Linked DNA regions of Homo sapiens. The protein of the gene in region 1 purifies or fractionates together with the protein of each later gene. This does not show direct contact. Each region holds a gene or a part of one and is shown on either strand. Other genes may lie near its edges.

What was found. Proteins that work in one complex are often made in the same cells at the same time.
Region 2: the proteins of CTR9 (region 1) and IWS1 purify together in Homo sapiens (affinity purification with mass spectrometry; 2 studies listed by BioGRID and IntAct, with this or other methods). This does not show direct contact.

The regions. Positions count from the first base shown.
Region 1 is NC_000011.10:10,749,698-10,753,450, reverse strand, and holds the start of CTR9 (RNA polymerase-associated protein CTR9 homolog), read right to left. Parts: upstream 2,206-3,753; 5' UTR 2,039-2,205; coding exon 1,994-2,038; intron 780-1,993; coding exon 681-779; intron 1-680. UniProt on the Homo sapiens protein: Component of the PAF1 complex (PAF1C) which has multiple functions during transcription by RNA polymerase II and is implicated in regulation of development and maintenance of embryonic stem cell pluripotency.
Region 2 is NC_000002.12:127,519,760-127,523,512, forward strand, and holds part of IWS1 (protein IWS1 homolog), read right to left. Parts: intron 1-3,753.

The DNA of each region.
Region 1 (3,753 bases):
GAGCCTCTTCTGTATGTTTGTATGAAAGCAATGTGGCATATCTACTTAGGAATAATGACTGTAACATTTATATTACCTATTCCTATAAAAAGAAAACATCATTATGCAGCTGATGCTGGCAAGTAGAGGATATAGAATTTTAGGGTTTCTGATTGGATTTTCTTGAGAATCTCCAGTAAGATTCACATTGAAGGAGACTAAATAGGACAAAAAACATAAGTCTGAGATAAACTTCACCCAAAAGAACTTTTGTGATTTTGGGTGAAGTGATTTTCCCAGAACCTAATCACATTCTAGAATATTTTAAGGGAAGTGTTTTGTTGTTATAGGAAACAATGTTAAGCAGCAATGTTCACACAGAAGCACTTCGCTTCTTTTCAGCTTATCTATAAACCATAAGCCAGCCTTCACTGAACAAGCACTAAATAATAAAATATTCAATATAGAGTACTACTTAAATGAATTTTGCCTTTACCAACATATACTAATTCACCAGTAGAGCAGCATATCATTTAGGAAAACGGCCTTATTGTTCCATAAATTATTAACACAATTAACTTCCATACACATGGTATAACTAATCTACCATGCAGCCAAGCTGGCTATTACTATATCTGAAAACAGAAACTACATATTTTCCTAGTCAACAAATAAAAAATATTTGCTACATGAATACTGACCGCCAAAGCAATCCATATGTGCAGTTGTGTGTGTTCCTGTTTCAGAATACTGATAACTTCATCTCCCTCCGGTAACTGATCGAAGTCAAGTTCAATGACCTAAAATACAAAAGGTAGGTCTTAACTCTTATTCCACTTTAAAATTCACATTTCATCTTTGCTGCTTTTCGTGAATATAATCAACATGCATATACATAGAGTACGTGTTCACTTTCAATACGGTTGAGCTAATCCATGTTAATGTTTAAGGAGCACATGACGAATAGGTTATACTATAATAAAGTTAAAGCACAGAGAAGCAAACAAACCCTGCTACTTGTCCCCAGATCACTGGAACTATAAAATACTAGAAATGGTCTGCTTACTAAAAAATAACAAAACAAAATCCTACTTAACATAGAATCCAAGTAAAGTGCAGATAAGCACCCTAGAGACTATTATGCCATAGGTCTGACTCCTTGAGATGCATGACCCTACAAGCCATGCAAAGTTGAATGCCACTGCACACATTAATCATGGAGGTGGCACCTGCGTGTAACAGACAGTCCTGACTGTAAGCACAAAAATAATAATAGGAAAATGTCCTGGAATTAGAGGTAATGACTATACAACTTTGCGAATACACTAAAAACCACTGAATTTTATACCTCAATATTATATCTCAAACAAAAAAAATAAAAATAAAAGATATACAAGAAGACTGAACATCAAAGCTGAGAGCTTTACTCAGACAAGCCACAGGCCACCCATGAATGAGACATAGGTAAGCGAGAGGAGGTTAAATTTTATCAGCACACAGGGGCGGCTAAATCTTGGGATATCTCGTTGAAGGAGAGTTGGTGTAGAGAACACAGCGCACCATGACAGACTCGAGTTTCTAAGGGAGAAGAGGCGACCTCCTATATATTCCCAGGGAAAGATCTCGAGTTTGAGCAGCAAGCATATAAACCCCGGAAACATCAGCGCCCACCTCTGTAATCTGCGAGGTGTTTTACAGTTTATCGGGTACTCTCACACCTCTGCTCCCGTGGGTTGGTTAGGAAAAGAGTAGCGCACTGTCAAATTCGAACAGGCTGGAGAGGAACTTTCAAGAACTCCTTCTCCGAGTGGCCCTGAGGCTGCAGAGACGCGGTGCCCCCAGCCTGAGAGGGCACAGGGGCTGAAGAAGATGATGATCAGACCTTGGCCAGGTATTTCGATCAGGGCTCTTAGGGAAGGAGGATGCTCTCGCTTCAGAAACGAAGTCGAGCGAAGTCGGTGGGGGCGATCGTACAAGTTCATGGCCCCCACCCGCCTCCATACACGACACTTACCTCGTCAGTGTCCCGGAGGGGAATCTCGATGGAGCCCCGCGACATGATGGGGTCAAAAGGCGAGCAAGTGTCTCGCCCCGCCGCTCCGCAGCCGGTAGTCTCCGCTTCAGGCTAATCCAGAGGTGAGTGACGGCTCCGGCTCTGGTCTTGACTGCCGCCCCGCGGCGCCGCTGGAGCTCTGGCTTCTCCTTCCCGTCAGCCGCTTAAACAACGAGCAGCGGACGGCGGACGGCCACTTCCGGCGACCCCGCCCCCTGTCCCGGAAGCACTCCCGGGGGAGCGTGCCCTACGCGAGCTCAGCTTGTGGCTCCGGTGTTTCCGTTTTGGGGTTGGCGGCTCCGAAGCTTTTGTTGGCGTGTCGGCTGTAGGGTGCCCCGAGAGCCTGCAGGACCTTCGGAACCATCTGGCGTCTGACTCTCCTCAGCGCTGGCGCGGCCCCGAATGAAAACTTGGAAGGCGTAGCCGCTTGGTCCCGCGGTGGGCGGGGCCCCTGCCTGACGTGGACCTCTCGGGATGGGCCTGGCCAATCCTGTTTTCTTCCCAAGATTGTTAGGGATAATTCAGTCATTCGTTTCGCAACCCATCTTTTGGCCCCCGTTAGGTGTAAGTCATACCTGTGATACCTTTGTGACTAGTTTAAATAAAAAAATTTACAATTAATTCGGTAATCATTGTGATAATTCATGTCTTATTTTTTTTAGTTCTTCGAAGCATGTAAGAAGATCTAGTATATTTGTGATTTAAGTAAAATTGCAGATGAGGCCAGGCGCGGTGGCTCACGCCTGTAATCCCAGCACTTTGGGAGGCCAAGGCGGGCGGATCATCTGAGGTCAGGAGTTCGAGACCAGCCTGACCAACATGGTGAAAACCCGTCTATACTAAAAATACAAAAATTAGCCCGGCGCGGTGGTGGGCGCCTGTAATCCCAGCTACCAGGGAGACTGAAACAGGAGACTCGCTTGAACCCGGGAGACGGAGGTTGCGCTGAGCCGAGATCAGCCACTGCGCTCCAGACTGGGGATCGATCGAGACTCCACCTCAAAAAAAAAAAAAAGAGGAAATTAATTTTAGTAATATATTTTATTTAACGTAATATATCCAAAATCTCATTTCAACATGTAGTCAATATAAAAATTCAGATAATTTTTACATTTTTTTATACTGAGTCTTGAAAATTCGATATGTATTTCACATGCATACACTGATCTCAGTTGCCTGATTTTAATTGGAAATATTGGATCTGTGTTTAGATTTTATAAAGTTTGCAGTTGAAAAAATAGGTTCACACACTTTAGTTTTTCCAAAATTTAAATTAAAAAAATTCCTAATTAAATTCCTTAATTGGATTAGTCATATTTCAAGTGTTCAATAGCCACATGTGGTTAGTGAATACTGCATTGGATGGCATCAGACAGTATTTCCCAGAAATACTGTTTAATATATTTTAAAGTTTATAAAGTAAGCATTAAACAAAAGTACACATAGTGGTGATTGTTATTCTCCATGCCCAAAAGCCTCCCTGATATTAAAAACTCTATTGATAGGTTTGGTTTTTCAGTTATTCGCATCCAAAGGCATCATACCTGATAATGCAGAGTGCTATGATTGAATAGTTGGGGCACTCAGTTTAGAGTGGGATTTGGAGGAAGTGACATTTAAGTTGCATCTGGGAAAATGAGTAAGGTTTGGCAGGTAAAGTATGTAGGGGAATGTGTACCAGACAGAGGGGACGGCATGTTGGGGAAGAGCTTTGAGAACCT
Region 2 (3,753 bases), on another chromosome or scaffold:
GATTATCCAGGTAGGCCCAATTATAATTACAAAGGTTCTTACAGGAGGGATACAGGAAGGTCAGAGTAAGAGAGAGATATGATGACAGAAACAAGAGGTCAGAAAATGAGTTGTGAAGATGCTATGCTGCTGGTTTTGAAGATGGAGGAAGGAGCCTCAGCCAAGAAATGCAGGTAGCCACTACAAACTGAAGAAAGCAAGGAAATGTATCTTCCCTCAGAGAAGAACACAGCCCTGGGACACCTTGATTTTAGTACAGTGTGACCCATTTTGGACTTGACCTCCAGAATTATAAGATAATAATTTTTCGTTGTTTTAAGCCACCAAGTTGTATCAAGTTGTTACAGCCTCAAGAGGAAACTAGTATCTTTCAGGCTTTGGACCTGTAATTTGTACTGCCCCATTTTTTTTGTTTTGTTTTTATTTTTGAGACATAGTCTCGCTCTGTCGCCAGGCTGGAGTGCAGTGGTGTGATCTCTACTCACTGCAACCTCCACCTCCCGGGTTCAAGAGATTCTCCTGCCTCAGCCTCCTAGGTAGCTGGGACTACAGGCGCAAACCACCATGCCTGGCTAATTTTTGTATTTTTAGTAGAGACGGGGTTTCACCATGTTGGCCAGGATGGTCTCGATCTCTTGACCTCATGATCCACCCACCTCGGCCTCCCAAAGTGCTGGGATTACAGGCAAGGGCCACCACGCCCGGCCTTTGCACTGCTTCATTTAATGCAACCGTACTCTTTTAACATCCCATTACTTCTAAAAAAAAATGTTTAATGAGAAAACAAAATGTCTTCTTAAAAGCCATTTTAAACAGGCAAAAGAACATTAATACAGAACTCAACACTTATACACAGTACAACTGGCACTCTTGAAGTACTAGTGGTTTAGCAAATTACCATAACCTTCCTGGAGAGGAATTTCTATGAAGAGCCTTAAAATGTCTTAGTCTCTAATCTCGTTAATTCTCCTGGCAGCTTTCTAAGGAAACAATAAAAAATGATCACAAATGTTTATGTACAAAAATCTTCAGGGCAGCTTCAGTTATTTAATACAATAGCTAAACAGCATAAATGACAACAATTAGAAAATTGCTGAATAAGTGATGCTGCATCCATATTGTGAAACCATTAAACATTACGCTTATTGAGAATCTTTAATGACGTGGGGAAACACTTAAAAGTATCATCTTAAGTGAAGAGATAAAAAATAATACATAGGCTGGGCACAGTGGCTCACACCTGTAATTCCAGCACTTTGGGAGGCCAAGGCCGGTGGATTACAAGGTCAGGAGTTTGAGACCAGCCTGGCCAACATGGTGAAACCCTGTCTCTACTAAAAATACTAAAAATTAGGCGTGGTAGCGCACTGTAATCCCAGCTACTCTGGAGGCTGAGGCAGGAGAATTGCTTGAACCTGGGAGGCGGAGGTTGCAGTGAGCCAAGATCATGCCACTGCACTCCAGCCTGGGACAGAGTGAGACTCTGTCTCAAAATATATACATAGAAAGACACAAAATATATATAATAACATCTCAAGTAAAGTTAAAATATATAGACGTCATATACCTGGGACAGAATGAAACTGCAGGATAAATAATGTGAAAAGGCTCATAGTCATTTCTGTAGTTGGACTATGCTGGTTTTAATTTTTTTCTTTAAACTTCACAGATGCAGGAGTGCCTCAACTTATTATGGGGTTACAGCCTGATACACCCATAGTAAGCTGAAAATATAATTAAGCCAAAAACGCATTTCATACATCTAATCTACCAAACATCACAGCTTAGCCTAGCCTACCTTAGATGTGCTCCAAACACTTACAGAGGTAAGACCTACGGTTGGACAAAATCACCCAACACAAAACCTATTTTATAATAGAATGTTGAGTATCTCATGTAATTTACTGAATACAGTGAAAAAACAGAACGGTTGTATGGGTACTCAAAGTATACATACAGCACTTGCAACATCGCAAAGTTGAAAATTTTTAAGTCAAATTATAGTTTAAGTCTGGGACAGTCTGTGATTTCCAAATTTTCAAAAACAGCCACACTTATTTATTTAGAATCCATATTATAAAAAAACAAAGATGCTTAGGGTAACCTGAACTTGTAACTGCACCATGAGGCCATGAGATGACTACCCTACTGGGCTCTAAACTGACCATGATTAATCTCTGAATGCTGTTTCCAAAGAGGAAACTTAAAATATCATGCACTAAATGCACTGGCTGTAACAACATATACATTATTAAGTAACTTCCAACTATCAATTAAAATATTGGAATTTATTCTGAATGTTTAAAAGCACAGAAAAAACCTGAGTGACATCAAAATATATAAAAGATGAGCCTTTTCCACACCCGCATTTAGTTCTCTGACCTCCCCTACCCCTTAATGACCCCATTTCAGTTCCACTGGCTCCTTGAAGATATCAAGCACACTCTCACCTTGGGGTCTTTGCCAGGGATGTTCTTCCCCTAAACGTCCATATCCACACGGCTATTCCTTTGCCTCCCTTCACACCTTGGTTCAAATGTCACTTTCTTAATAAAAGACCTATATGGTCCCTATTTAACACCAAAGCCTGCCCTCCATCCTTTGTTCTAATTATCTGTTTTCTTCACAGCATTTGTTATCTTCTAGCAGACTACACAATTAAAAAAAAATGTTTATTGCTTAATGTCTTTCTCCTCCTACTGGAAAAACAAACCTAAGAAGAGAAGGATTTTAACTTCTAGTCACTGATAAGTCCAAAGCACCTGCAAAAAGTCTGACACATATTAGGTGCTCAATAAATACCTGTTGAATGTATGATATGCTAATGTTGCTGTCAAAGGACAGAGTCAATATAATCTCTAATCACACCTACTAAAAATTGGACAATTTTCTGCATATGTGTAATCAAGAAAAATATAAGGCATAGAAAGTTCTTAAATCTTTGCATCTTTATCATTCCTATTTGTTTCAGTCGTATCTACCAAAGACTTACGGCGAACTTATTGAAAAATTTCCCAATTTTATCTTGTTAACATGATGTATAAACAGAAAGGAAAATAAAGCAGTTCTGAAATATTTATGTATTAGAGCAAATACGTTAAAATGTACACAAAACCCAATACTATTACATATTATTAAACAAAAACAGCTCTTAAAATTATATTTGCAGGCCAGGTGTGGTGGCTCACGCCTGTAATCCTAGCACTTTGAGAGGCTGAGGTGGGCAGATCACTTGAGGTCAGGAGTTTGAGATCAGCCTGGCCAACATGGTGAAACCCCATCTCTACCAAGAAAACAAAAATAGCTGGACGTGGTGGCCTGTGCCTGTAGTCCCAGCTACTCGGGAGGCTATGAGGTGGGAGGATAGCTTGAGCCCAGAGGCAGAGGCTGCAGTGAGCCGAGGTCTCACCACTGTACTCCAGCCTGTGTTACAGAGTCAGACCCTGTCTCAAAAAAAAAAGCATTATTATTACATACATTATATACACCGTAACAGTTCAAAATCAGAAGGGCAAATGCTGACATAAATGTTGACAGGTGATAACCCCCATAACTTTCTATTTCAAGTGGTGTTTCTTCAGATTGCAAATGCTCAATGCCCCACTATGACATTATTGCAGAATAGGGAAACTTAGTCAAATATCAAAGGCCGGGCCCATTTTCTGAATCAATATGCACAGTTGAAAACTGCCTAACATTTGAAATGTGACCCAATCAGAACATATTTCACTGTGATTTCAACAGTAACCAGAC